7 linked regions of the Homo sapiens genome follow. The protein of the gene in region 2 interacts with the protein of the main gene of each other region in a biochemical or structural test. Each region holds a gene or a part of one and is shown on either strand. Other genes may lie near its edges. The genes, in order: RPS6KA1, TAMALIN, GRM5, ARVCF, LIMK1, MAGIX and GOPC.

Region 1 (3,500 bases), on a different chromosome or scaffold from region 2:
GGCTTGGGGCTAACAGCTGCTCTCTTCCAAGCCTCTGCCACATGGCAGGCACTGGGCTCAGTGCCTCGCACCTGTGGCACCACTTTTTTTTTTTTTTTTTTTTTTTTTAGACAGAGTTTTGCTCTGTTGCTGAGGCTGGAGTGCAGTAGTGCAATCGCAGCTCACTGCAACCTCCGCCTCCCAGGTTCAAGCGATTCTCCTGCCTCAGCCTCCCAAGTAGCTGGGATTACAGGCGTACGCCACCATGCCCGGCTAATTTTTGTATTTTTTTTAGTAGACACGGGGTTTCACCACGTTGGCCAGGCTGGTCTCAAACTCCTGACCTCAGGTGATCCGCCCGCCTCGGCCTCCCAAAGTGCTGGGATTACAGGTGTGAGCCACTGCGCCTGGCCCCTGTGGCACCATTTAATCCTCATGACAGCCCTGGGAGGTAGGCCCTGGCCCCATGTGGCAGAGAAGGAAACTGAGGCTCTGAGGGGACCTAGTGATGATGCCTATGGTCACACAACTGGTGAGTGGGGATTCAAAATCTGGTCCCAAATCCAGGAGGTGCTCCAAACAGGTCAGCTGAGAAACAGCCCAGAGCCCAGAGCCCCCCTCTGGTCAGTCTTGCCTTTTCCAGCCCCCAGACTTCACTCTCAGGTGGTTATTAAATATGCTGGGGTGTGTCAAACCCAGCCCATCTGTTTCCTGTGTGATGTGAGGCAAGTAACCTACCCTATCTGGGCGTTTGGAAGCTGAAAGAAATTGCCCCACCCCTCCTAGAACAGGGAGAGTGTGGTGAGGCAGACAGGAGGTTCCCAACAGCTAGGAAGGCCTGCTCTAGAACAGGTCTGGATCTGGACTTTGGAGCCAGGAGCTGGGTCCATGGGGCAGCTGTAGCCCTGCTTGGCTACAGCTGGGTAGGCACAGCTGTGCTCTACCCATTACATAATCTCCCTGCCCCTGGAACAGCTCCCCATTGCCACTCCCAGGACATCCTGCCCCCTGAGCCCCTTTAATGCCCCTAATCTCTCCCCAGGGGCCAAATGTTCTACAGGCCCCTCCATGCACACATCCATACACACACTGTCATCTCTCAGCAGCCTGGGGAGAAGGGATGGGTTGGTCAGGGCCCAGGGGCTGGGCTGTGGTAGGGATGCTTTTGTAGACTGAGCTCCACTTCACCCAGCATTCTAGACTCTTGACATAATTCCTGCAGATGATCAGAACAGCCTACCCACCAGCTCCCTGCCCCACAGCCTTCCCCACTCCAAACCCTCATCATTCCTAAAATCAAGTGCAACTGCTGCACTCAACTCACTCAGTCAACATTTGCTGAGAACCTTCTATGTACCAGGCCCCAAACCCCTCTGTGGCTTCCACTGCCTGTAGAATCAAGTCCCAGCTCCTTAGCATAGAAATCAAGGCCATCATCTTCAACTGCCCAGCACAATAACTAGGAATGTAGGTTTTGCAACCTGACCTTGTGGGTTCAAATTCTGGCTTCTACCACCTGCGTGACCCCTAGAAGGTTAGTTCATTTACTGGGGCTTCAGTTTCCTCATCTGTGAAATGCGGATCAAAGTAACATACCTCAATGGTGGCGGCAAGAAGCAAATGAAATAATGCCTATAAATATATACACCTGACATGTAACTGGCCTACAAACAATAGCCATTCTTATCATTGGGCCCTATTTTTGAGCTAAACTGAACAACCACAGACCCTGAAAACAGTCTATTTTATATCCCCAGCATTTGTATGGTGGCTCCCTCTACCAAGAAAGCCTTTCCTGCCTTGTCACTTTGGCAAACTCCTGATCTTTTATCAGGACTGAATTCAAATGTCACCCCTGTCCACACAGCCTCATGTTCTTTCCTCCCTCCTCTCTACCCCCATAACCTAAGCATGCTGCAGGTTAACTCGGGAAGGGGCCATGGCTTGTCCATCATCAACATCTTGGCACCCAGCCAGAGTCCAGCATGTGGTTTATCCAGTGAAAGTTCAACCCAGCAAAGACAGCAAGGAGGCCAGAGCAGGTTCTATTACTCCTATTTTTCAGATGAGGCTCAGGAGAGTTAAGGGACTCACCGAGGTCCCTCAGCAGGCAGGTGGCAGACATGTGACCATAACCCAAAGTCACGTGGCTGCAAGCCTACTGAGGGTGGGGAGGAAGGGGTAGGTGTACCTAGAGGTGTGGGTTTCTTGAGCAGTGGCCTGGATGACTTAGGGACCCCCCGCTCTAAGGCAGTCTGGCTGCCTCTACTCCCTGGATCTCTGGCTTGGGTGTCATTCTTATGGAACGCCAAACCTGTAAGAGTAAGGGAACAGGCAGCCCTGGAGAACAGACTGGTAGGGGGGTCAGGGGGGTTGTGGGGTGCTGGCTTCCCACTCAGAGCCTGGGTCCTGGGTCCGGGGTCATCTGCCCCTCTGGCCTGACTGCTGCATAGCAATCCTTGAAAGAACACAGCTGTGCAGCCACAAAGATACAGCCACTAATCCTAGCTCTGCCAGCCACTTATTCTGCCCTTGGGTCTGTCATATCACTTTTTATTTTTATTTTTATTTATTTTTTGAGACAGTTTCACTCTTTTGCCCAGGCTGGAGTGCAGCGGCGCAATCTCAGCTCACTGCAACCTCTGCCCCGCTGGGTTCAAGCAATTCTTCTGCCTCAGCCTCCCAAGTAGCTGGGAATATAGGCCGCACCACCACACCTGGCTAATTTTTGTATTTTTAGTAGAGGCGGGGTTTCGCCATGTTGGCCCAGCTGGTCTCAAACTCCTGACCTCAGGTGATCCACCCGCCTCAGGCTCCCAAAGTGCTAGGATTACAGTCATGAGCCACCACGCGTGGCCTCATATCACTTTTTGAAGTCTCAGTTTCGGCCAGGCGCAGTGGCTCATGTCTGTAATCCCAGCACTTTGGGAGGCTGAGGCCAAGAGGCCTCACAGATCACGAGGATCACGAGGTCAAGAGATCGAGACCATCCTGGTCAACATGGTGAAAACCTGACTCTACTAAAAATACAAAAATTAGCTGGGCATGGTGACACGGGCCTGTAGTCCCAGCTACTCAGGAGGCTGAAGCAGGAGAATCACTTGAACCCGGGAGGTGGAGGTTGCAGTGAGCCGAGATCACGCCACTGCACTCCAGCCTGGTGACAGAGCAAGACTATGTCTCAAAAAATAATAATAGTAATAAAGTCTCAGTTTCCTCATCTGTATCACGAGGGCAGGTGTGTCTTGCTGACATCTGCACTTTGTTGTCTGAAATAGTACTTATCACCTAAGTGCTAAATAAATGACTGAATGGGGACAATGGTGCTGACCTTGCAGAGTACTGAATGAAGGACTTTGTCTTAGGAGTCCTTTGGCCTCTTAGAGGTTGAAGACCCACACTCCTCCCTCTTCCTCAGAGAGCACTGCTCATGAGGACAGATGCCCAGGGCCCCAGACCACTGCCCCCAGTTCTGAGATGTCAGAAATGGGTTCCAACTGGCATCATTCCTTCCCACCCAA
Region 2 (4,187 bases):
AGTGGTTAGATTGCAGGCTCTGGAACCAGGCTGCCTGGCTTTGAATCTCAGCTCTGCCGCTGAGTGACTTAGGGCAAATTACTTATCTTCTCTGGGCCTCAGTTTCCTCATCTGTAAGGGAGGATAATGGTGCTTATTTCGTAGGGTTGTTATGAAGACCAAGTGAGTTAATGCATGTATGTAAAAGGACACACAGAACAAACAGTGTGCATAGCACATGCTAAGTGCTCAATAAATGTTAACTGTGAAGGCATAACAGATTTGGGAAGACTGGGGGAGGAGGGAGGGGACAGACAAGGGCACCGCATTGCCGCCTCTGCTTCTTGGCCGATGGGTGTTGGGACATGGAGTCCCCAGCCTGTGCTGCTGACGCCCTGTGGTGGCTAGCCGCTCTTTAGACACCAGACGCTGCCTTCCACTTCCTCCTCTCACTTCTTATTCGGGCACCACTGACGACAGAGACTTCGGCTGGGCCATTCCCGCCTCTCCTACCGCCTGGCAGCCATGGTAACAGCCTGGGGGATGGTCCCTAAGATGGGGTCAGAGAACGGCTGAGCATGGCCATCCCCCCAGCCCTGAACTCCCACTCAGCCTGGGCTCATCCCAACCTCCTGAGTCAAGTCCACAGTAAGCGTCTGTCTCCTGGGAAGGGGGATCTGACCCCGGCATCAGGAGCTGAGGAAAGGTGTTGCCAGCAGGGATCACTCAAGCCCCTTGGAGGGGACAGGCCAGAACTAAGCCTACTGCTTTCAGGGTTTCCACCTCTTCCCTTCTTCCTAGACGTGCGAACAGGGGGCAGCCTCTTTCAGCTCTTCTGGGGCAGCTGCGTCAAGGGAAAATCCTGGGCCCTCTCCCTCCCTGGGGGCTTCTGCGCAGTGAGTTCAGGGAGTCTCCTCCCTCCTCCATCGGGCCTCCACCCCTACTCCTGCGCAGCCCCGCTGCCGCTCTCCCTGCCCTGGAGTCTCCTGCAGCCCCTTGGATCTCCGTGACTCTCCCTACCTCCCCGACTCCCCAGGCTTCTTACAGTGACCTCTTACCGTGCCCCACTCCATGAATCGCCAGAGCTATTCGTCCCTAAATTTCAAACCTTGCGCAATGTCCCTTCACAGACCCCTCCAGGTATCACGCAGCCCCGAGCCCCGAGCCCCGCCCCGGGGGCCTCATCCCGCCCCTTCGCGTCCGCGGCTCGTTTTCCCCCACTGAGCGCCCAGCTCCCGCAGTTTCCCCGGCCGTCGAGCGCCGTGGGCGGGGCTCCAGGGCGGCGGCGCCTCGCGGGGAGGGTCCTCCGTGCTGGGGGCGAGGCCACCCGAGGCAGCTCCCCGCCCGCCCCCAACCCCGCCCCGCTCTCGGAGCCTATAAAGGGAGGCGACCCGCGGCCCGCCCGGCTGGCATCCCCCAGCCGCCGCCAGCCCCGCCGAGGGGAGCCAGCGCCGTCTCTGAGGGGCGTCCGGCGCCGGAGCCATGACCCTCCGCCGACTCAGGAAGCTGCAGCAGAAGGAGGAGGCGGCGGCCACCCCGGACCCCGCCGCCCGGACTCCCGACTCGGAAGTCGCGCCCGCCGCTCCGGTCCCGACCCCGGGACCCCCTGCCGCAGCCGCCACCCCTGGGCCCCCAGCGGACGAGCTGTACGCGGCGCTGGAGGACTATCACCCTGCCGAGCTGTACCGCGCGCTCGCCGTGTCCGGGGGCACCCTGCCCCGCCGAAAGGTGCGTCCCCCGCCCGCCTTCAGGATCTGCTCAGCCCCTCTCCGACTCCCTACAGGGCCTGCTGACTCCGCAGTGCCCTCTCCTCGGCGTCCGCGGAGTCCCCCACCTTCTTCCCCGGCCCGCTGGGTGCCTCGACTCCCCGCGTTCCCCGCTGCTGCGAAGGCCGTGGCCCTCGCCTGCACACCGCGCCCAGGCTCGGTGGCTCTTAACTCCGCGCCCCATGCACGCCCCCTCTCTCCCTCCTTGACTCCTCCCAGCACCCCCCTTCTCCTACCCGCTCCATCTGGCTTTCTGCCCCCCATGCCCCGCCTCCCCGTGGCCAGGTGTCCTGGGTCCCCAGGAGCCCCTCGCCCGAGGGACAGAGACAGCCCCAGGCAAGTTGAAGGTCCGAGAGCCCCCGGTGGGAGAAGCGGGCCGGTGGCTGCGCCGCGTGCGTTCTCACTCTGAGGAAGTGCGTGGGGAGCCGCTGACTCCGGATAGCACACCCTTCCGAGGGGACTCCCCGATTCCTGGGCTGGGGGCCTGCCGCCTGGCCCCACGTCTGACGTACGGGGCGCGAGGGCCACTGCTCCCTGGACTTCTGTCGGAACCGGACGCAGTGGGAGGGGTCGCAGGGCGCCCGCGGGGCAGGAAGGATGCGGGCCGCGCCCACCTCTGAGTCCCCTCTGCCAGCCTCTTCCTCTGGCCCCAGGAGACCTGAGGCTCAGAACCTACACAACACCAGGTTAAGAAGAGGGGCCTGGTGGCCTTTCCTCACCCAGCCGCCCTCCTTCGCCCCGGCCCCCAGCTAGCCCCCACACAATGAACAGCTTGTTGAGAATTTGCATTTTATGAAAATCATGTTGAAAGACAAAGGGGTCTCTCTGTGCTGCCCAGTCCTTCCTCCCTGGCCGTTTGGGAACTGTCCCCACCCCTGAGGCCAATCTGGTTCTGAACCTTCTCTTCCTTGCCTTGGGCAGCTTTGGGGGAGGGTTAGCAAAGGCACAGAACAGAAAGGCCCTGGGCTGTGCAGGCTCCAAAGAAAAGGGCTGCTCTGGGACTGGACCTCCTCCCAGGACCAAAAAGTTAGGGAGGGTGAGAGACTACTTTAGTTTATCAAGGACCCTGAAGAGACAGGAACCTTCATCTCTCATCCTTCCTCCACACCCCCCACCACCACCCCTAAAGAACTCCCAGTCTCGGTCCTTTAGTGAGACTTGCTGACAAGTTTGACATCTAAGATGTTTTGTCCCAGAAAGCACAAAATATATGGCAATGGAGAGAGAGACCCAGGTATAGCTGGGCACAGCTGGTCACCTGCAGCTGGGATCCACAACTGGTCCTTGAAACGGCCTGTACCTTAGGAGACCTGGCACCTCTGACCCCACATTCTGGCTGGGATTGCCAGCCCTTCGGGACAGGGTCCCTGACCCCAGCCCTCCCAAGCCACTGTCTGTAGCTGAGAAATTAGATGGAGAGACCCAACTGGCAGAAGGTCCTCGGAGCACCTTGATAGGTGAGCCCAGGGGACACCTATCCTCTGAATCCCACTGGGGAAGAGCCCCTGCCTCAGCTTTGGGAGTCTGGATGGCCTGAGCCTCTACAGACATGGGCCCTAGGGGTGGAGACCATTTTAGAATAATGATCTCCCCACCTGCTGCCAGTGTGGAAACCAGCAAGGGCTTAGAGGTTCATGGATCTGGAACCCAGGAGGATGGTTGTGTCCCTGCAGTCCCAGGTATGAAGGTAAGGCCTGTAGAGAAAGTTGAGGAGTGGTGCCAGTAGTGGCACTTGGCAAATAGTTCCACCAGCACCAAAACAGGTGTGGATGTGGAGCTGGGAAGGGGCAGACAGGAAGTGGGTCGCTGTGTCCAGGGTAACCTCTCAGTGTCTGCTCAAGGACAGTCCCGCCTTACCTGCTCCTTCTGACCATCTTACTGCCCAGGGCTCAGGATTCCGCTGGAAGAATCTCAGCCAGAGTCCTGAACAGCAGCGGTGAGTCACCAACACCCAGCCCCTGCCATGGTCCAAAGGGGTGAGGTGCTGGGTTGGGGGGTGCCAGGACAGCATCTCAGCCTAGCGAGGGTAGTCATTCTCCTAGCCTTTAAACATGGCTCCCCCGCTGGGAGTGAGGGCAGGTGGGGGTGAGGGCTGTGTGAAGGGGGTGGCAGAGAAAGGAGGTAGGGACTTTTGAGTCATTAGGTGCTCTTCAACACACCCCCAGTCCCTGCCAGTTACCCCTCCCTGGGGAGATCTGGATGAACGGATGTGGGAGTTGGGAGGGGGTGTAGGCAAAGTCTATGGGGAACGTCCTAACCCAGGCCTCCTGGGCTCCCCTGAGCCCTCCTAGCCTTGGCAAACCCCACGGGCCCAGACCTTAGCCAGGCTGTGTCCAGCTGCTTGGGGCTGGCTGCCCCTGCCTCCAGAATGTCAGTCCTCTTCTGGTCCCAGCCTGTGGCAGCCCTCTTAGGAGGGATCTGAGCGTGGGCAGAAGTAGGTGC
Region 3 (3,998 bases), on a different chromosome or scaffold from region 2:
ACTTAATCACATCACCAGAGTCATCTAGTCATGTCACCCTCCATTTTCTTGCGAACTCACTATTTTATGTATTTTCTCACCTATGCCATCTTTCTATTTTCTCATCTATGCCATCTTTCTTTCTTTCTTTTTTAATTAAGGAAGCTCACTCACAGCTTTCCTGGCCTCTCTCCAAAGTACTAAAACTTGTTTTGTGAATTGCAGTCAAAGAAATACAAAAAGTAACAATGATCCCATCAGTAGACGTGAAAATGCAAGAAGAAAGATGCCATTGTAAAACCCAACAAGGTGTGGTAGATACATCTCTTTTTCTTGTTGTTAAATCCTGAAGCTATCAAACAAAAACTTACCTTATTGACAAGGGTCTAGTGGAAAATCTAATGAGCATTAGTAATGAATGCACCAGCATCAATCCCCTTGTCTGTAGTGCACTCATCTTTTAATCTTTGACCCAGCTGCTGCAAGCACCTGGTTCCCAAAATTCAGCTAGGGAAATACAATGGGAATAATAATCATATTACTGCAATGTCTTTCTTTTCTTTAAATTAAGCTATGCAAGTAATTTATACCAATCGCCTTTTCAGAGGCAGAAATGAAGTCTGCTTTTGTACTTAAAGATAACCTCAGCATAGCTGACAATCCTGGGCAGTTATGGGGGTGGTGAAGGAAGGGAAGCAAAGTCATTTGAGAAAGTAAAGACATTCAACTGCCAACGAAGAATAAATTTTAACGGATGTAGGAAGAATCGTTTGTAAGAAGTGCAGAAAATGCAAAATGGTATTATTAATAAGTAACATCATTAGAGGCCGTTCTTTCTAACCAGTCACACCTCTGAATCATCTCGGGCTTCCCTGACTTCCTAGCTTTCTGTACCCTCCAGCAGTGACGCCCCTTCTCCCAATCATTGTCAGGGGTTTCAGTGCCATAGTCAAAAAGAACCTTATTATCTACCTGCTCCCCCAGCTTCTCTCTGAGTGACACACCACCCACGCCTCCTCCGCACAGCTTTCCTCCTCCCATGGCTCCCAGAGGGAACGTGAGGAGCAGGAGAGAGAGACCAAGGCTACCCTCGCCTGAACCCCGAAACGACGAGGCTTTAAGACCCTTATTCACCCACTGAGTCTATGCCCTGGCCGTTCTGCCAACCCCCGCCGCGCGCTGCGGGAGTATAAGCCAGCCCTGCGCTGCGCTTCCAGCTGCGTCTGCCCGAGCGCGGCACGTGCTCCCGGCGCTGGCGCGAGAGAGCGAGCGCCACCGCCGCGGGCCCCGCAGCCGTTCTGCCTGCTGTCACCGCTGCCTCCATCGCCGACACTAGCGCTCCAGCTGCAGCCAAGGCCGCTACGAGAGCGCAGGAAGCCCTCGAGGAGCGGCTGCCTGGGGGCGCAAGGCTCAGGGCGCGCACCTGGTAAGCACAGCGCCTTTTTCTTTCTCTTGGCTATAGTTACCACGGATATAGGATACCGCTGGAGCCCCTCCCCCAGTGCAGGGATGGAGAGCAATCAAGCAAGGGGCGGGAGCTGGGGCTAAAAAGACCCAGGAGGGCAAGTGGTGGGCAGGTGGAGGGCTGGTAGAGCCAGGAACGCTACGAGGTCCTGCAAGTTTAGAAAAGTCACCCTGCAAGGACGTGTGCTGTGTGAATCAGACATAAATTTAAGTCAGGAGCCTGGGCTACCGCGGTATCGCTCCAATGGGAGGTTTATGAAGATCATTTTGCTTTTATTTGCATAAGTGAGGGATTTAAGTGGGCTTGTTTCCATAGAAAACGAACTAAAAAAAAAAAACAGAGGAGGAAAAGATAAAGATCCGAGCCAAAGGATACGTTTGGATCTCTCTCTCTGTGTGTCTGTCTCTCTCTCTCTCCCTCTGTCTGTGTGTGTGTGTGTGTGTGTGTGTGATGCCAATACATGTGCACGAAAGGCAAGGATTTAGGAAGAGAGATGGGCTCCTCTATCTTTGAGCCCATTAGGTGTTTGAGGGAGCTAATGGCAGTTGCTGGTGCTTCACCCCAAAAAGAGGCAGCAAAGAAGGGACCCGACTGGGTGTAAATGTCAGTTTCCGTTTCTAAAAGGACTACAGTACTAGGAGGGAGAGGTTTTCTGGAACTGTGGGTCATGTAAAGATGGTACACCTGCAGCTCTGGACCTATAAACTCAAGTTCATATACTCCCAGTGGAGCTTGGAAGACATGTTTACTCTTGGTTCCTTTATGGAACTTTGGCAAAAATAATATCTCTCTCTCCCTCTCTCTCTCTCTCTCTCTCTCTCACACACACACACACACACACACACACAGAGAGAGAGAGAGAGAGAGAGAGAGAGAGAGAGAATATGAAAAATGAATACAGGGAAGAGAAGGGAGCTGAATATGCCTGAATAGGCTGAGTGGGGTAGTAGAAGGAACAAGAACAGGGTGATCGGGTTTGGCATCACTGCGTTCATTCAGTTCTACCCTAGGTAGTTCCTGGACAGATCTCTAGAGAAACATGACCTTGAACAAGCCCCTTAACCTTCATGTACTCAGTTTCTCTATTGAACAATGTAGAGGATCTTCTGCATTTGGGGACATGAAGGTCCCATGCAGTAGTGTCTATGTATGTGTTTGAAGATCTGCATACTAAGAAGTAAGAACACTCATAAAATATGGATAAAGGAAGCTTCAGGGGATTCTTCCTCAAAGTACTAAAGGCAGTTGGCAAGATCCTGACTGTGCTGTTGGGATAATGCATGCTGAGAGGTCTGTGGAAATGAGTGAGGAAAATCCAACCTCCAGCCTGTAGCTCAGTGAACTTGGAGTTCTGAGAGCTGTTTAGAAATGTTCAGATCCACAGAGCCTAAAGTCATATGCTATTTTTTTAGTGTTTTATTATTTATTTATTTTTATTATACTTTAAGTTCTAGGGTACAAACCTGCACGTTGTGAACAAGTCATATGCTATTTTTAAGGTTAGCATTGAGGAAGAAGGTTTGGTGGCAAGGAAAATAAGTGCCAATCCAGTTTAAAGATTAGGTAGTCAGGGCAGCAAGAAGAAGGTTTTAGAGTAAAACATAAATGCAATGTAATCTAGGCAGAGGGGTTAGGAAGAAGAAGATAATGGATATTCCCCCTGAGACAAGGATGTCTACACTCCTAGGAGACAACTGGGACCTACCATGTCCTTGACACTCCTTCCACCTGTCTGAGGAAGGCACAGGTGCCCTTTCTCACTCAATACAGGTTTATTCTTAGAATTTAGGGATTTGTATCCCAGGTGCTGAGATATGACGGTAAACATGTGAAAAGTAAGTCCTGGGAGTGCCTCCAGCTCCCTTGCCATGTGAGCATCTGTTGACAGAGCTGGTCTACCCATCCAGATTCACCCAGGAGTCTATGTTCCTAAAGGAACTCACTGTGCCACTTGGTGGCACCAAAAAGTTGCGCAAAGAACTCTGTTCTCTATAAATACAAACTACCACCCCTCCCTCCTCCGCTCTCTCCCCTTCCCCCCATCCCCCCTTTCTCAGTAGCGGGGAGATTGCTGCACACGCCGCCCTCAGCTCGGCTGTTCTGCGCACGCTGAGCGGAGGGAATGAGCTTGAGATCATCTTGGGGGGGAAGCCGGGGACTGGAGAGGCCGGCTCTGCCCTGCTGATCCCCGTGGCCCAACTTTTCGGGGGGCTAGCTAGACCGAGTCTCACTGCTCGCAGCGCAGCCAACAGGGGGGTAAGCTTGCTAAGTGTCTGTGTGCCCAAGTGTCCCCTGGCCAGAGAAGGATTTAGGATCTATAGGCTTGCTGAGTAGCTCATAGTGTGGTTTGGGGGAGGGGGACGCGGGTGGAGCAGGGGTGGCCAAAGCCGACAAGATTCAAGTCTGTTCCATTTGCGAACAGCCTTAATTAAACCTGTTGGGGAAAAAGGCGCGAGCAATGGGGTGAAGGAGGGAAGAGCTGCAAGGGTTGAAAAGGAGATTCTGCATGCCTTCGCATCCGAGTTCCCGCTCTCTAAGGCCAGGTGCGCGTGGT
Region 4 (3,500 bases), on a different chromosome or scaffold from region 2:
GATGGCGGCGAGCTTAGGAGCGCCAGAGCTTAGGAGCTTCAGAGCTGTGGCACAAGTCCTGTGGATGAGAAGTGGGGCCTGATGGAGCTGTCCTCACCCCCAAGTGGTGTCCCAGTCTTCCCAGGGGCACCCTCTGGAGGGGTCTCTGTGGTACCGTAGCCCTGCCCAGCTCTCACCTACCTTCCCATCACTTGACAGCCAGAGGGGGAGCTGGGACCTTCCTGTTCATCTGCCTGGGAGGCTCATCCCAGCCACCTGTGACCTCTGCCCTTCCCCTCCTACCCCTGGGAGGCCCTGCTGACCCCACAGAGTCCTGGGTCCCCACAGTCCTGCTTGTCCATCAGGGTGTTCCCGCGCAGCCCTGCAGGCTCTTGACCTTGGGGTAAGGTGGGGCCCAGAGCTGCCATTGGGGTGGCGAGGGACCCAGAATTGCCCTTGCACAGGTTCAGGTCTCTCTGAGAGTGCACCTGTCCCTTTCCAGGTCAGCTGGGAGGCAGGGAAACCCTGTCTTTCCCTGCCCAGCTATCCCCAGCCAAGATAGTTGTCTGCCAGGGCTCCCCTCCTGAGGCCTGGGGGCAGTTAGCTTCTCCCCCTTCACTGAGCTCCAGACTGTGGGGTCCTTTCCCATTAGTGCTAGGAGGGCAGCAGCAGGGCCTATTTTGCAGATGAAGACAAGCCCACAAGGCCAGGGTGGAGCCAGGGAGTTTCTGGTAGCCAGGGGTCACCTGGCCTGCTCTTGGCCACACAGGAATGTGAGCTCCGATGGTGCTGAGGCCCGGCGGCGACTCCGGGAGTGTGAAGGGCTGGTGGACGCGCTCCTGCATGCCCTGCAGTCGGCTGTGGGCCGGAAGGACACTGACAACAAGGTGGGCAGGGACGGTCACAGCCTCATACCAAGGGCTGGAGAGACGATCATGCAGGTCCCAGGAGGCTGGAACTGTGGGAGCAGCACAGGGGAATGGGCTTGTGGGTCTGGGGTGGCGTTCTGGGTGTGGCCCGCCTCGCAGTGACCACACTGAAGTGGGCACCGTCCTGCAGGCAGAAGGTGTGCCGTGAGGGCAGAGGCTTCCTCCCATGGACCCTTCCTGGCGGTTACCGCCCTTTTGCTCCCCTCCACTGAGGACTCCCTGTTCCTTTGCTCCCGGTGCCCTCATGCACACCAGCTGTGGCCAGTCTTTCCTGAGGGCCAGCCCTGTGCCTAGGGTGCCCTGCCCCACCCACTCACCTCTCCCTGCAGTCGGTGGAGAACTGCGTGTGCATCATGCGGAACCTGTCCTACCACGTGCACAAGGAGGTGCCCGGGGCCGACAGGTACCAGGAGGCCGAGCCCGGGCCCCTGGGCAGTGCTGTAGGCTCCCAGCGCCGGAGGCGGGATGATGCCAGCTGCTTTGGAGGCAAGAAGGCCAAAGGTGGGTGGGGCGGACTGGGGTATCATCTCTACCATCTCAACTCCTGCCCCAGCGGAAGGCTCTCTGTACACCCACAGCAGCCCATCATGGAGGCTAGAGGACACCTGGTCAGCCCCCAACAGGCAGGCAGGGAAGCCAGGAGTCAAGGAGGCTGGACTGCCCTGGGTCACATGGTTGATGGGACCCAGGTCCAACCTTCCCCATCTACACTGTGGGACCCCCAGGGAGTACACAAGGGAAACCAACCAATGCCCAGACCCAGTCTTTCTACTCCGGGGAGAGTTCCACTTGCCCATGAGTTGGGAAGGAGCCATGGCTGCTGCCTGCTCACTGTTCACAGAATAGCTGTAGACTGCCACCAACCTGTGGGGCAGCCCCCCATCTGCCTGGGCAAGATGCCCTGCACACCTTCTCTACTGCACTAGCAGGGTGTAGGTTCCCAGGACCTCCCCAGCAGCTGTGGGGGACCTGTACGCCACCTGCCCCTGCCCCACTGACCCCAGGCCTCCCTCTTCTTGTACCCCTGGTGGGTGCTCAGTGCCCAGAAGTGATGGGATGAGGTTCCACATGCTGCCTGCTTGATCCAGGGTGTGCAGTGGGAACCTGAGGCTTCCGGGAGGGCATGGGGGGGTGATGAGTGCTGCCTGTTCAGGCTCCTCTCCTCTCTCCTCTGCTTCCTCCGGCCTCCCAGAGGAGTGGTTCCACCAAGGTGAGTCCCTTTTTATCCTGCTCTCCAGGCCTGGCGTGTGCAGTGGGTACCTGGGAAGAGGCGAGCACGTTCCAGCCCCAGGGCCCTGCCCCACCCCTGGCTTCATCACTCGGGCTGCCATCTTTATGACAGTGGCAGGTGGGAAGGCCACGGGGCTCATTCTGTAACCTCAGACTTGCCTACCTGGGCAGAGTTGGGCAGAGCCAAGAGTGGGCAGGGCCCGGGGGTACTTATCTCTAGGGGCACCAAGGAGCAGTCTGTTTCTCTGATAGAATGGGGCATCATGTGGCTCGGAGGGATACAAGGGTCCCATGAGGGTGAGCAGGGCAGGGACCCCAGGTCATCTGGCTCCACTCTGCTGCCTTCTGAAGGGGTAGAAGCATCATCTGACATGGGGAGAGTGGTTGACAGTGGGCTCACTGTCACAGACGTGTGCAAGCCAGGGCTACACAAATGTTAGGTGGGCTGCTGTGGGGTTTCTCCTGGCTAGTAGATCCTGGGACAATGTCCTGACCCCAGCTGGGGGAGTTTCCCCCTAGTTCTGCCTTACTGTGTGACCCAAGTGAGTCTTGTCCTGGTCAGCCTTCAGTTTCTTGGCTTGTATCCACCTACCATCCAGCCAGGGCTCCTGGCTTCCCTCAGTCTACATACCTGGCAGTTGCAAGGGAGCCACCGGGAGGGTCTGTGGTACAGCTCCCAGCACCTGGTGGGAGATGAGTCCTAGGGGCAGGGCTGGGACATCCCCAGGCCCCACTGCCACCAACTCCTACCCCTAGGCTAAACTGTCTGCCCAAACTCTGACAACGGTGCTCCACTCCCACAGGTGCCCAGGCCTGGACATGGGGGTGCCTTTTGGGGCCTGGGTAGGAGAGAACTGTGCCCAACTCTCCTGATACACCCATTCCCCATATGGGGTCTGCCTCACCTCCCACCACCTTTCCCTTCCAGGAAAGAAGGATGGTGAGATGGACCGGAACTTTGACACGCTAGACCTGCCCAAGCGAACTGAGGCCGCCAAAGGTGAGTGGGCTGAGATGAAGCCAGCTCCACTGGGGGATGTCTGGGCTCAGGATTGCCCTGGTAGTGAAGCTTTGAGCCATCAAGCAGGCCTGGAGGGCCTCAGGGAACAGATGGGGAAACAGGCCCCTAGGTGCAGGATTTCCTGGAGGGTGATTCAGCACCAGGACACCTGCTGAGGGTTTAGAATGGGAGGAAGTGCCATGGGTCATGTCAGGCAAGGTTGGGGGAGACAGGCACAGAGAGGCCGAGGGCTTGCTCGGCCTCACGGTGCGTAAGAGGTGGGAAGGTTTGGAGGGACGCCTCCAGTGGAGGCAGGGCCTCCTGTGTTAGCCACAAAGCTGAGTTATCTGAGGGGGCTGGGA
Region 5 (3,500 bases), on a different chromosome or scaffold from region 2:
CCTCCCTTGACATCCTTCTTAGGGACAGTCAGGCACTCTGTGTGGGGCACTCAAGAGAGCCAGGCCCGTCAGCCTCTAGCTCCTGCCAGAATGCAGGCCTGAGGGGTGAGGGGCGGGGCAGGGGCAGGGACAGGAACTCCGGCGTGCTCTCCATCCGCAAAGGTTCACTGAGGCCCCGAGCCCCAGCCACTGAGCCACCAAGTCAGCCTGGGCCAGGCCTGGGTGCCCTGTCTGCAATGGAGGCAGAGACGGGGTCTCGGGGCAGTTCTGAGGATGCTGGGTGCACAGCGGGGGCCTCGCCGGCAGGAATCACTTATGCTCTCTCCTGGGCCAAGCTTTGTGGATGCCCAGCCTGGGGCCGCGGGGAGCTGGCAGGTCAGTGGCAGACACTGGTGGGCAGACCTAGTGTCTGGTAGAACAGGCATCAAGGAAGTGGTGACCGGAGGGAAGCCAAGTGCACTCAAACCCTCGGGTGAGTCATCACCGCCGGGTCTTTCACAGCTGCTGAAAGTGAGCAACAGTGATGAAGGTTTGTGAGTTTCTGCGTGAGCGAGTGAATGGACCAGTAGCAGTTTCCAGGTTGTGGAAGAGCGTTCCCTCCCCGGGATGGGGACACTTGGTTACAGCAATTCCTAATCCCCCACCCACCCACCGCCCACTGCAGAGGTATGCGGGGGCCCTGCTTCCTGCAGGCAGGAGTGAGGGGCACTCCTGTGATGTGGCACCCCTGTGACCGAGGTCATGTGTGATCGGTGTAAGGGCAGGAAGCGAGTCATTGGTCTGCACCAGGCGTGGGGGCTTCTGCGAGGGCAGGACCCAAAGTCGGCCTGGCCTCCCGGCTGCAGCACTCCTTTCCCTTTCGAATTAGGTTAGAGCCCTGGGACGGGAGGTGCCCTGTAGACCACCCCCCTCACCAACTTCCGTCCTCCGCCCCACCCCCGCGGTGATCCGGTGAACTGCCGGCCCCCTGCTGTGCACCGAGTGGGGCAGTGACCCTGACGTGGCGTCTCCTGCCGCCCCTGCCACCGCCACCACCTCCGGTGGCCCAGCCTCCGCATTCCCCACCCCCATGGAGGAATGCACCAGGCCTCCCTTCCTGGATGCACCCCTCACCCACATGCTTCCAAACCCTGGCATTTTCTGCTCCCCCTTTACTCCCACCCCTTCCCCTAGGCTCCCAGACAAAGGGGAAGTGGCTGGATCCTCTTAAAGGGACAGTGTCCCACCAGCTTACTGCTGAACTCCCCTCCTCAACCCCAGTTCCCTAGTTACAGTTAATTAGCATTAGCAGACAGCCCATGAGTGATACCCATGCAGGCCCCAGGCTGTGGAGAGTTTCCTGGGTAGGAAACAGCCCTTAAGGTCCCTCATCTCATCCAGGTCCCAGTCTTTCCTACCTGCCTCTCTCCTAGATTGTGGCCCTTTGGAGCCTGGTTCTTCTGTCCCTGTGTGACCGACACATAGCACCCAAACAGTGGCAGAGCGGGACGGACCCCCTAGCCTGTTCTCTGTGTGGGTCTGTACCCTGACCCAGACATGCCCCCCCACAGCAGGACCCAGGGGGGCACATGTGTGCCTGCGGGTTCACTGGGGCACCCGCATTTGGTTTATTTTATTTTTTAGAGAGAGGGTCTTGCTGTGTCACCCAGCTGGAGTGCAGTGGTGTAATCATAGCACACTGCAGCCTTCAACTCCTGGGCTCAAGCGATCCTCCCTCCCCAGCCTCCCTAGTAGCTGGGAGTACAGGACCCACTGTATCCTGGCTAATTTTTTAATAATTTTTTAAGAGATGGGGTCTTACTGTGTTGCCCAGGCTGGCCTCAAACCTCTGGCCTCAAGTGATCCTCCCACCTTCGCCTCCTGAAGTGCTGAGATTACAGGCATGAGCCACCATGCCCATCCCAGACTGACATTTCTATATTTGTTCATCCTGGCTGGGCAGGGCTGCTGGTCCCCACCCCACCGGGATGCTTGGCTGGGAAAAAGCCGGGAATGTAGGTCTAACCCTGGCCTGTGTTGTGGCACCTACAGCCTGGCATTCCTCCCCATCTGCCCTTCAAGGCCCCACCAACCAGGCCTCCTTGGTAGCCTCTAGTGAGGAAACAGGCGAACCGTGGCTTTGATGACCCTGCACACCTGGGGATTCTCCTCTATTTTTCTTTTTCTTTTTTTTTTTTTTGGAGACAGAGTCTCACTCTGTCGCCAGGCTGGAGTGCAGTGGCACAATTTTGGCTCACTGCAACCTCTGCCTCCCAGGTTCAAGCGATTCTTCTGCCTCAGCCTCCCGAGTAGCTGGGATTACAGGTGCCCACCACCATGCCTGGCTAGTTTTTGTATTTTTAGTGGAGACTGGGTTTTGCCATGTTGGCCAGGCTGGTCTCAGACTCCTGACCCCAAGTGATCTGCCCACCTCGGCCTCCCAAAGTGCTGGGATTACAGGTGTGAGCCACCGCTTTGGGAGGCCGAGGTGGGCGGATCACGAGGTCAAGAGCTCAAGACCATCCTGGCCAAGATGGTGAAACCCCATCTCTACTAAAAATACAAAAAATTAGCTGGGCATGGTGGTGTGTGCCTGTAGTCCCAGCTACTCAGGAGGCTGAGGCAGGAGGATCACTTGAACCTGGAAGGCAGAGGTTGCAGTGAGCCGAGATCGAGCCACTGCACTGCAGCCTGGCGACAGAGCAAGACTCCGTCTCAAAAAACAAACAAAAAGAAAACTTGTTCTAATTCTTACAAAGGTGCCTGTAGCCGAGGCAGGGGCCCAGGTGAGGTGGAGGAGGGCGGGAGTGGACGTCTCAGCCCGGCCCCTCTCCTGCAGGTGTTGTGACTGCAGTGCCTCCCTGTCGCACCAGTACTATGAGAAGGATGGGCAGCTCTTCTGCAAGAAGGACTACTGGGCCCGCTATGGCGAGTCCTGCCATGGGTGCTCTGAGCAAATCACCAAGGGACTGGTTATGGTGAGCGCCCCCTGCCTTGCACACTCACCTGGGGTGGGGGTATCCAAGCAGACCCCATGCTCCAGGTCTCTCTCCCATCATTGTCTCTCCTGGTCTCCTTTTTGCTGGTCTTTGGAGCTGCTTTCTGAGCCTGACTGTCTGTCTGTATCCCTCAGCGCCCCCATCTATGGAGCCAGCTCTGTCCAGGAGCTCAGCAGCTGGCCAGCCGGGTCCCTGCAGTTGTTTTTTTGGTGACACCCTTGGAAGAGGCCTAGGGGAGGATCTGTGGGGGTTGTTGGGTCTGCTGAGCTGGGCTGTTCCCTCCTCACCCCCGCACCAGGTGGCTGGGGAGCTGAAGTACCACCCCGAGTGTTTCATCTGCCTCACGTGTGGGACCTTTATCGGTGACGGGGACACCTACACGCTGGTGGAGCACTCCAAGCTGTACTGGTGAGTGCCTTGGCCCCTCCCTGAGCCTAGGAGGCCCACCTGTGTCACAGATCTGCAAGGGTGCTGACTCTCCCACACCCGGGCCTCCTGCCCTTTCCCATGGGGTGAGGTTTG
Region 6 (3,517 bases), on a different chromosome or scaffold from region 2:
GGGTCGGTGGTTTGGGAGTCAACGGAGGTGGGATGAGAGAGGAGAGAGCAGGGGCTCCTAGATGAGCGGGGTTTGATTTCCTTTGGAGATTGTGGGAAATGATTTCTGAGGGGCATGTTCTGGATCCAGGAGGGGAGGGGTCTCGGGAAAGGAGGTGTCGGGGTTGTGAGGGGTGGTGCCGATCCCAGAAGGCCTGGAGGGGAGATTTCTCTAAGGGTCAGGGTCTCATCTCCCGCAGCCTTTGGGTTCTCCTGTCCATCCTCAGCCAAAGGCCTGGATTTCCCTTCCCTACTTCACCACCCAATCTAATCCGTAGTCCCGTCATGGCCAGATCGCAGCCCAGATCCTGGAGGGCCGGAGGTAACGGGGTCTCGCAGCAGCAGCACTTCCCTAGTTCAGCACCCTCCATCCCGGACGACGCTCAAGAAGACCCGGGGCAGCCCGGAGCCTAGTCCAGAGGCGGCCGCCGATGGCCCCACGGTTTCTCCTCCTGAGCGCCGCGCTGAGGATCCCAACGACCAGATCCCGGGTTCCCCGGGGCCCTGGCTAGTGCCCAGCGAGGAACGGCTCTCGCGGGCCCTAGGGGTCCGGGGGGCAGCGCAGCTCGCTCAGGAGATGGCAGCCGGAAGGCGGAGACACTGAGCCTACCTCTGACAGCGCGGGGCTCACTAGTTACCGCCCAACCTGGATCCGGCGCGTGTGGCCGCTGGGCACTTGGCACCTCCCCAAGAGCTTCCACTTGGTTTGGTCCCCCCACCCGCTGCTCAGTGGCTCTGACCACACTCCCCTCGCAGCGTCAGTGGTACGACCCTTCCAGCCGGCTAGCCTGCGCTTCTGGTTCTGGGAGGGGGAGGTAATAAAATGGTTCGATCCGGTCTTGACTTGCCAGGCGCTCGAGGCGGGGTGGGGCTGCCCGGGCCACTCTGTAAAGGAGCAGGTGGGTCGATCCTGCTTGAGTAATCGCTGACGAGCTTCGTGCTGCTGCTTTCCTGCTTGCACATGTTATCTTTGCTTCTGCCGGTCCTCAGTCTGGCGTGCTTTCTTTTTCTCTTCGCCGTCTCCTGCTCCTCTCCTTATTCATTAATTTCACCTTTTTGGAGGTGTACAGGGTCTCACACATAAATTATTGTGCATGGCATGGAGAATGCAGAGGTGAGCCTGTCGTGGCAGGACTGCACCAGTGTATCCACAGTCCTGTCTCGGAATCATACAGACCCTCAGCTGACGTCGGGATAGCAAGGCTAGAAGCCTAGAAGCAGGGCAGCTTCCTTCGCCAGAGGCCTGCGGTCTCCCACTTCCGGCCTAGTCTGCCAGCTTTTGCTGGCACGTAGGCTACCACTCTCCGGGCACCGGCTGGGGTCCTGGAGCCCCCTTTGGGGCGGAGTGGGGAAGGTGTGAGTCAGCGCCCCTGGACGGGCCGGGCTAAAAAAGGCTGTTAGAACCTTTGGGCCGTGCCCCCATTTTCCGTACATGGTGAAGAACTGCAGCCGGGCTTGTGTGCACACGCCACACACTGGGCGTTCCCGGCACGGGAGAGGCCCAGAGTTTCCTTCACCCTGGGAACAGAGCCCTACAGCCAGGGCTTATATGGCCAGCGGGACTCCAACCGGGGTAGCCGCGAGGAAGGCGCTGGCAGAGGACAGAAATGTCCAGTCACCTCCGCTGTCACCACATCCTGAGCACTCGGCCCCATCCCCCCACAGGAGGGAAGCTGTGGTCTGACGGAATGGGCAACTTTCGCCCCTGTGGGGAGGGGACGGGGAAGGAAGAAAGAATTTAAAGGACCGGAATGCGAGAGTCCAGGTGGCCTTGGAGAGGAAAGAGGAACGGTGAAGACAAGCTGCGAGAGCTGGGAGCTGGAGGGTGAAGAGGTGAACACTTGAGTGGTTAGAGCTGTAGATAGACATTGTGGGGAAGTGTGCCAGGGTGGCTTCCAGCTACCCCTGACTTAGAGCCTGGTGGAGGTGTGGTTCTTCAGAAGTCAGCAAAGGGCTCAAGAGCCCCAGTCTATAAATACAGTCACACCCAGGAGACTAATAATAGTAACCCCAGCCACCATGTACTTAGTTTTATCCCTGCTACTGGCTTTATTGCAATATTTATTTTCATCTACAATAGTTGCACATCTACTCAACTATCCGAATATGTCCATTTCGCAGAGGAGGAAAGTGAGGCCCAGGGAGTGCAGATAGCTACAGAGAGGAGGGTCAAAGCACGATTTAATCAAGGCCTGATTCCCAAGTCTGTCCTCTCAATTTCACCTGCATTGACAAGTATTAATTGAACCCCAACTGTATATGTTGCACTGTGCTAGGTACTGTGGAGATGCTGGAGGAACAAGACATAAAATTTCTTTGTGTAGCTGATGTATGTAATGAGAGTAGACAGATGTCAGACAAAAAAGACGAGAAAATGAATAAATAAAAAACCAGGCCAGGCGTGGTGGCTCACGCCTGTAATCCCAGCACTTTGGGAGGCCGAGGCTGGTGGATCACGAGGTCAAGAGTTCAAGAGCAGCCTGGCCAAGATGGTGAAACCCCGTCTCTACTGAAAATACAAAAATTAGCCAGGTGTGGTAGCAGGTGCCTGTAATCACAGCTACTCGGGAGGCTGAGGCAGAGAATTGCTTGAACCCAGGAGGTGGAGGTTGCAGCGAGCCAAGATCGCACCACTGCACTCCAGCCTGGGTGACAGAGCGAGAATCAGTCTCAAAAAAAAAAAAAAAAAAAAAAAAAACTTCAGGCCAGACATGGTGGTTTGTGCCTGTAATCCCAGTACTTTGGGAGGCGGAGGCGGGTGGATTGTTTGAGCCTACAAGTTTGATACCAGCCTGGGCAACATAGACCTTGTCTCTACAAAAAGTTTAAAAATTAGCTGGGAGTGGTGGCTCATGCCTGTAGTCCCAACTACTTGGGACACTGAGGTGGGAGGATCACTTGAGCCTGGGAGGTCAAGGCTGCAGTGAGCCATGATTGCACCATTCCACTCTAGCTGGAGTGACAGTGAGACCTTATCTCAAAAAAAAAAAAAAAAAAAAAAAAAAGGCCAGGCTCGTGGCTTACATCTGTAATCCCAACACTTTGGGAGGCCAAGGCAGGCGGATCACCTGAGGTCAGGAGTTCGAGACCAGTCTGACCAATATGGAGAAACCCCATCTCTACTAAAAATACAAAATTAGCCTGGTGTGGTGGCACATGCCTGTAATCTCAGCTACTCAGGAGGCTGAGACAGAAGAATCGCTTGAACCCGGGAGGTGGAGGTTGCGGTGAGCCAAGATTGTGCCATTGTACTCCAGCCTGGGCAACAAGAGCAAAACTCCTTCTCAAAAAAAAAAAAAAAAAAAAAAGACAATTTCAGAGAGAAGTGAGAGTCATGAAGCTATGAAGCTAGCAAAAGGAGGTTACATTGTGGGAGATGATGGTGAGCTTCTGGCCTCTTTGAAGACATAACTCTTGAGCTGCAACCTGAATGACCAGAAGCCAGGTATATGAAGCACTGAGTGAAGGGCATTGACAGC
Region 7 (3,500 bases), on a different chromosome or scaffold from region 2:
TGGGAATGTAAACCACCAACCACTATGAAAAACAGTGTGGAGATTCCTCAAAGAACTAAAAGTAGATCTACCATTTGATCCAGCAACCCCACTCCTGGGTATTTACCCAGAGGAAAAGAAGTCATTATATGAAAAAGATACTTGCAAACATGTTTATACTAGCACAACTCATAATTGCAAAAATATGGAACCAGCCCAAATACCCATCAATCAATAAGTGGATTAAAAAAATGTGGTGTGTATATATACAGACACCTGGAATATTACTCAGCCATAAAAAGGAATGAAATAGTGGCACTTGCAGCAACCTGGGTGGAATTGATTGGAGACCATTATCTAAATGAAGTAACTCAGGAGTGGAAAACAAAATGTATGTTCTCACTCATACATGGGAGCTAAGCTAGGAGGATGCAAAGGCATATGAATGATACAATGGACTTTGGGGATCTGGAGTAAAGGGTGGGAAGGGGATGAGGGATAAAAGATGACACATTGGATACAGTGTACACTGCTCAGGTGATGGGTGCACCAGAATCTCAGAAATCACCACTAAATAACTTATTCACATAACCAAACCCCACCTGTTCCCCAGAAACCTATTGAAAAAACAAAACAAAACCCAAACAAACAAAACAAAACACAACTGAGTTCCTTTCCATTGTGAGGCCTAGAGAGGCATTGGAATGAAACCGCAGTTATGGCACTCCCTTTTGACCTAAGCAGTTATCTCTGGAAGCCACCTTCTATGTAGGATTTAGACTAACTGACGCCAAGTAGCCATAAAATACCATATGCTGGACACCATAAGTCATACCTTATAGTGCAACAATGAATAGCCAGTCACTAATCAGTGATTGTAAACCAATGAGAATTCTTATCAAGCAACTTTGTATCTGCCTTGTTCCTTTTTCCCTTTAAAATCTGCTTGTAACTCAGGTGCCAGAGCACTCCCCAGGCATCTGGGAAATATGTGTTGAGTAGCTGTCCTCATTTTGGCTCAGGTAAACTAAAGTATATTTTGTGCCTCAGCCTTTTCCTTTTAGGTTTACAGTAGGAATAGTAATACTAGCAGTAGTAGGTGTGTTGGAATAGAATAAAGATTGTGAACCAATACTTTAAAAAATTCACCTCTGCCTTGAAAGAGTGTTCTGCCTGTTACTCCTTTTTTAAAGTAACAGCACAACAATACACCTTCTTTCACATCCTCCTTTCCCTCAGCAATTGCTCTGTTAGTATCTCTTTGAAGTGATTTATTATTCATAGCCAACAGTAGAGAAACTTTTAACTTTGATCTAGAGCCACATTGATAATGAACTGGTGATATGCTTGTCCCTTTGCTGCTTTAAATCTGTCCTGTTTTTAAATAGGCTGTTTTGCAACATTGAAGCTTAAGTTTAATATTGATCCAGTACGCACTTATGAACACGAATTATGTGCCAGATGCTGTATTGGGCACTTAGGATACAATGGAGAGCAAAAAAGGGATGTAGTCATGGCTTTTATGGAGTTTGGATTATATTGGAGGAATTTGTTGGGAGAATAATCATGTAAATGAGAAATTGCAACTTTGATGAATACTATGAAAGGTACATAAGAGTAAATGAGACCCTATTTTGGGATGTCAGAGAAGGCTTCCCTGAGGAAGTTATTGAGCTAAGACATAAAGGAATTATGTGTAAATAGGAATGAATTAAGCTAAGAGAAATAGGAATGCCATTCAACATTGCCGTAGAGGGAATGGGAAGTGAAAAGCACCTGTGGTGGGCAAGCGCATAGTGCATTTGAAGATTCGAGAGATAGTTGGTATGTGTAACAAGAGAAGAGGGCAAAAGAAGCAAGGCACAAGATAAGTTTGAACAGACAGAGAGGGACTATTTCTACATGACTTTATGGCCATGCAAAAATATTTGGGGCTTTATCATAATCGTGGGAAGTCTTTTAAACCAGTTCGTAGCCTCAGATATGAAGTTAGAATAGTTCACTCTGACTATGGTATGGAGAAAATTGCAGAGAATGACATGAATGAATGCAGAAAATTGTTTAGAAGGTTTCTGTTTATGTGAGATTATGATAGTGTGGAGTAAGATAATAGAGGTAGGAGAAGGTATTCAGAACAAGAGAAACTGGAGAGGTAAAAATAAAAAAAACCTAGAGATGGATTGGAACAGAGGGATGAGGGAGTTCAGGATAAATCCAAGTGACAATCTTGTGCAGCTGGTTGCCTGAATAGATAGATGAATGTGTTATATTATTAGCAATAACAATATTGCCAACTTTATTGATCAGTTACCATGGGCCAACCTCTCTTCTGAGTCTTTTACATAGACTGATTCATCCAATTCTCACAACAGTCCTGGAAACAGGTTTATTAGTATAGTTACTCCAACTTTACAGGGATTAAGTAAGAGGCCTGAGGCTACGGAGCTAGAGAAATCAGTCTCTGCACAAACACATTATGTCTGATGGGGGATGGAGGAGGTGGAGAGAGAAGCAGACAGAAAGAGTGAGTGTGGCTGAATAGATAGCAAGAAGTGAGATTGTAGGGTACAAGGGAGGTTTTGTTTTCATTTTGTTTTTAAATAAAAACAAATAAAACATAAGTCTGTGAGAAGCATCTACTTGAGAGAAAAGCCAAATATAGAAAAAGAGTGGGGTAGTTAATATTAGTAAGATTTTGTAATAACAGCTACTTAGAAGAGGGAGAGAATGGGAGCAGACAGTAGGAGGTTGTGGAAGTTTCTGTCTGATGGCTTTTTTTTTTCTGTAAAATAGGAGCCCACGTCAGTTGCTAAAAGTAGGTGAGAGTAAGAGCATGAGGCTAGTAGAAGAGGTTTGAGATAGTAATGGAAGAGTGGGAGAGCCAATTGGCCAGAGAAACAGGACTGCCAGGCATTGTTGAGGAATGGCTTGGGGTTAGTTATCATAAATTATGGTGCAACCGGTCTGTACTGTTGTGTGATTTTCTCTAGCAATGCATATCTGTTTAGGTACAGGCACAGTAATGAGAGTAATAACTAGGTTTATTCAATGTTATAGCAAAGGAGTTTGTTATACAGACAAGTGTGTTATTGAAGTGAAAGTGGTAATGGGGCTGATGAAAAGGAGATAAATTGAAGACTAAGGAAGGAGAATTGACAGGATTTGATAATTATGTAGATGCAGGAGATAAGAGAAAGGGTTAAGGATAACACTGCATTTCTGTTTGGGAAATGATTGATCAGTATCTGTAGTGGGTTGAATCGTATCCCTCCAAAATTCATATCCACCCCCAAAACCTCAGAATGTGACCTTATTTAGAAAGAGGGTCTTTGCAGGTGTAATTATGTAAAGATGGAGGTAAGATTATAGTGGATTAGAGGGGGCCCTAAATCCAATGAAAGTGTGCTGATAGGAGACAGAAAAGGCCACACACAGACACAGAGAAGAAGGCTATGTGATGATAGAAGCAGAGATTGGAGTGATGTATCTACAAGCCAAGGGATGCCAGTGATTGCCAACAG

Evidence for each region.
Region 1: the proteins of TAMALIN (region 2) and RPS6KA1 interact in a test that uses a peptide from one of them, tested with the Homo sapiens proteins (2 studies listed by BioGRID and IntAct).
Region 3: the proteins of TAMALIN (region 2) and GRM5 interact in a test that uses a peptide from one of them, tested with the Homo sapiens proteins (one large-scale study listed by IntAct).
Region 4: the proteins of TAMALIN (region 2) and ARVCF interact in a test that uses a peptide from one of them, tested with the Homo sapiens proteins (one large-scale study listed by IntAct).
Region 5: the proteins of TAMALIN (region 2) and LIMK1 interact in a test that uses a peptide from one of them, tested with the Homo sapiens proteins (one large-scale study listed by IntAct).
Region 6: the proteins of TAMALIN (region 2) and MAGIX interact in a test that uses a peptide from one of them, tested with the Homo sapiens proteins (one large-scale study listed by IntAct).
Region 7: the proteins of TAMALIN (region 2) and GOPC interact in a test that uses a peptide from one of them, tested with the Homo sapiens proteins (one large-scale study listed by IntAct).

What each region holds. Positions count from the first base shown.
Region 1 is NC_000001.11:26,532,761-26,536,260, reverse strand, and holds part of RPS6KA1 (ribosomal protein S6 kinase alpha-1), read right to left. Parts: intron 1-3,500. UniProt on the Homo sapiens protein: Serine/threonine-protein kinase that acts downstream of ERK (MAPK1/ERK2 and MAPK3/ERK1) signaling and mediates mitogenic and stress-induced activation of the transcription factors CREB1, ETV1/ER81 and NR4A1/NUR77, regulates translation through RPS6 and EIF4B phosphorylation, and mediates cellular proliferation, survival, and differentiation by modulating mTOR signaling and repressing pro-apoptotic function of BAD and DAPK1.
Region 2 is NC_000012.12:52,005,559-52,009,745, forward strand, and holds the start of TAMALIN (protein TAMALIN), read left to right. Parts: upstream 1-1,387; 5' UTR 1,388-1,461; coding exon 1,462-1,707; exon of another isoform or gene 1,708-2,097; intron 2,098-2,263; exon of another isoform or gene 2,264-3,202; intron 3,203-3,631; coding exon 3,632-3,681; intron 3,682-4,187. UniProt on the Homo sapiens protein: Plays a role in intracellular trafficking and contributes to the macromolecular organization of group 1 metabotropic glutamate receptors (mGluRs) at synapses.
Region 3 is NC_000011.10:89,063,183-89,067,180, reverse strand, and holds the start of GRM5 (metabotropic glutamate receptor 5 isoform a precursor), read left to right. Parts: upstream 1-1,198; 5' UTR 1,199-1,405; intron 1,406-3,521; exon of another isoform or gene 3,522-3,700; intron 3,701-3,998. UniProt on the Homo sapiens protein: G-protein coupled receptor for glutamate. Ligand binding causes a conformation change that triggers signaling via guanine nucleotide-binding proteins (G proteins) and modulates the activity of down-stream effectors.
Region 4 is NC_000022.11:19,975,324-19,978,823, reverse strand, and holds part of ARVCF (splicing regulator ARVCF), read left to right. Parts: intron 1-748; coding exon 749-866; intron 867-1,237; coding exon 1,238-1,409; intron 1,410-2,100; coding exon 2,101-2,118; intron 2,119-2,146; coding exon of another isoform or gene 2,147-2,247; exon of another isoform or gene 2,248-2,256; intron 2,257-3,066; coding exon 3,067-3,138; intron 3,139-3,500. UniProt on the Homo sapiens protein: Contributes to the regulation of alternative splicing of pre-mRNAs.
Region 5 is NC_000007.14:74,093,804-74,097,303, forward strand, and holds part of LIMK1 (LIM domain kinase 1), read left to right. Parts: intron 1-2,818; coding exon 2,819-2,957; intron 2,958-3,276; coding exon 3,277-3,386; intron 3,387-3,500. UniProt on the Homo sapiens protein: Serine/threonine-protein kinase that plays an essential role in the regulation of actin filament dynamics. Acts downstream of several Rho family GTPase signal transduction pathways.
Region 6 is NC_000023.11:49,165,758-49,169,274, forward strand, and holds the end of MAGIX (PDZ domain-containing protein MAGIX), read left to right. Parts: intron 1-316; coding exon 317-642; 3' UTR 643-3,017; downstream 3,018-3,517.
Region 7 is NC_000006.12:117,592,512-117,596,011, reverse strand, and holds part of GOPC (Golgi-associated PDZ and coiled-coil motif-containing protein), read left to right. Parts: intron 1-3,500.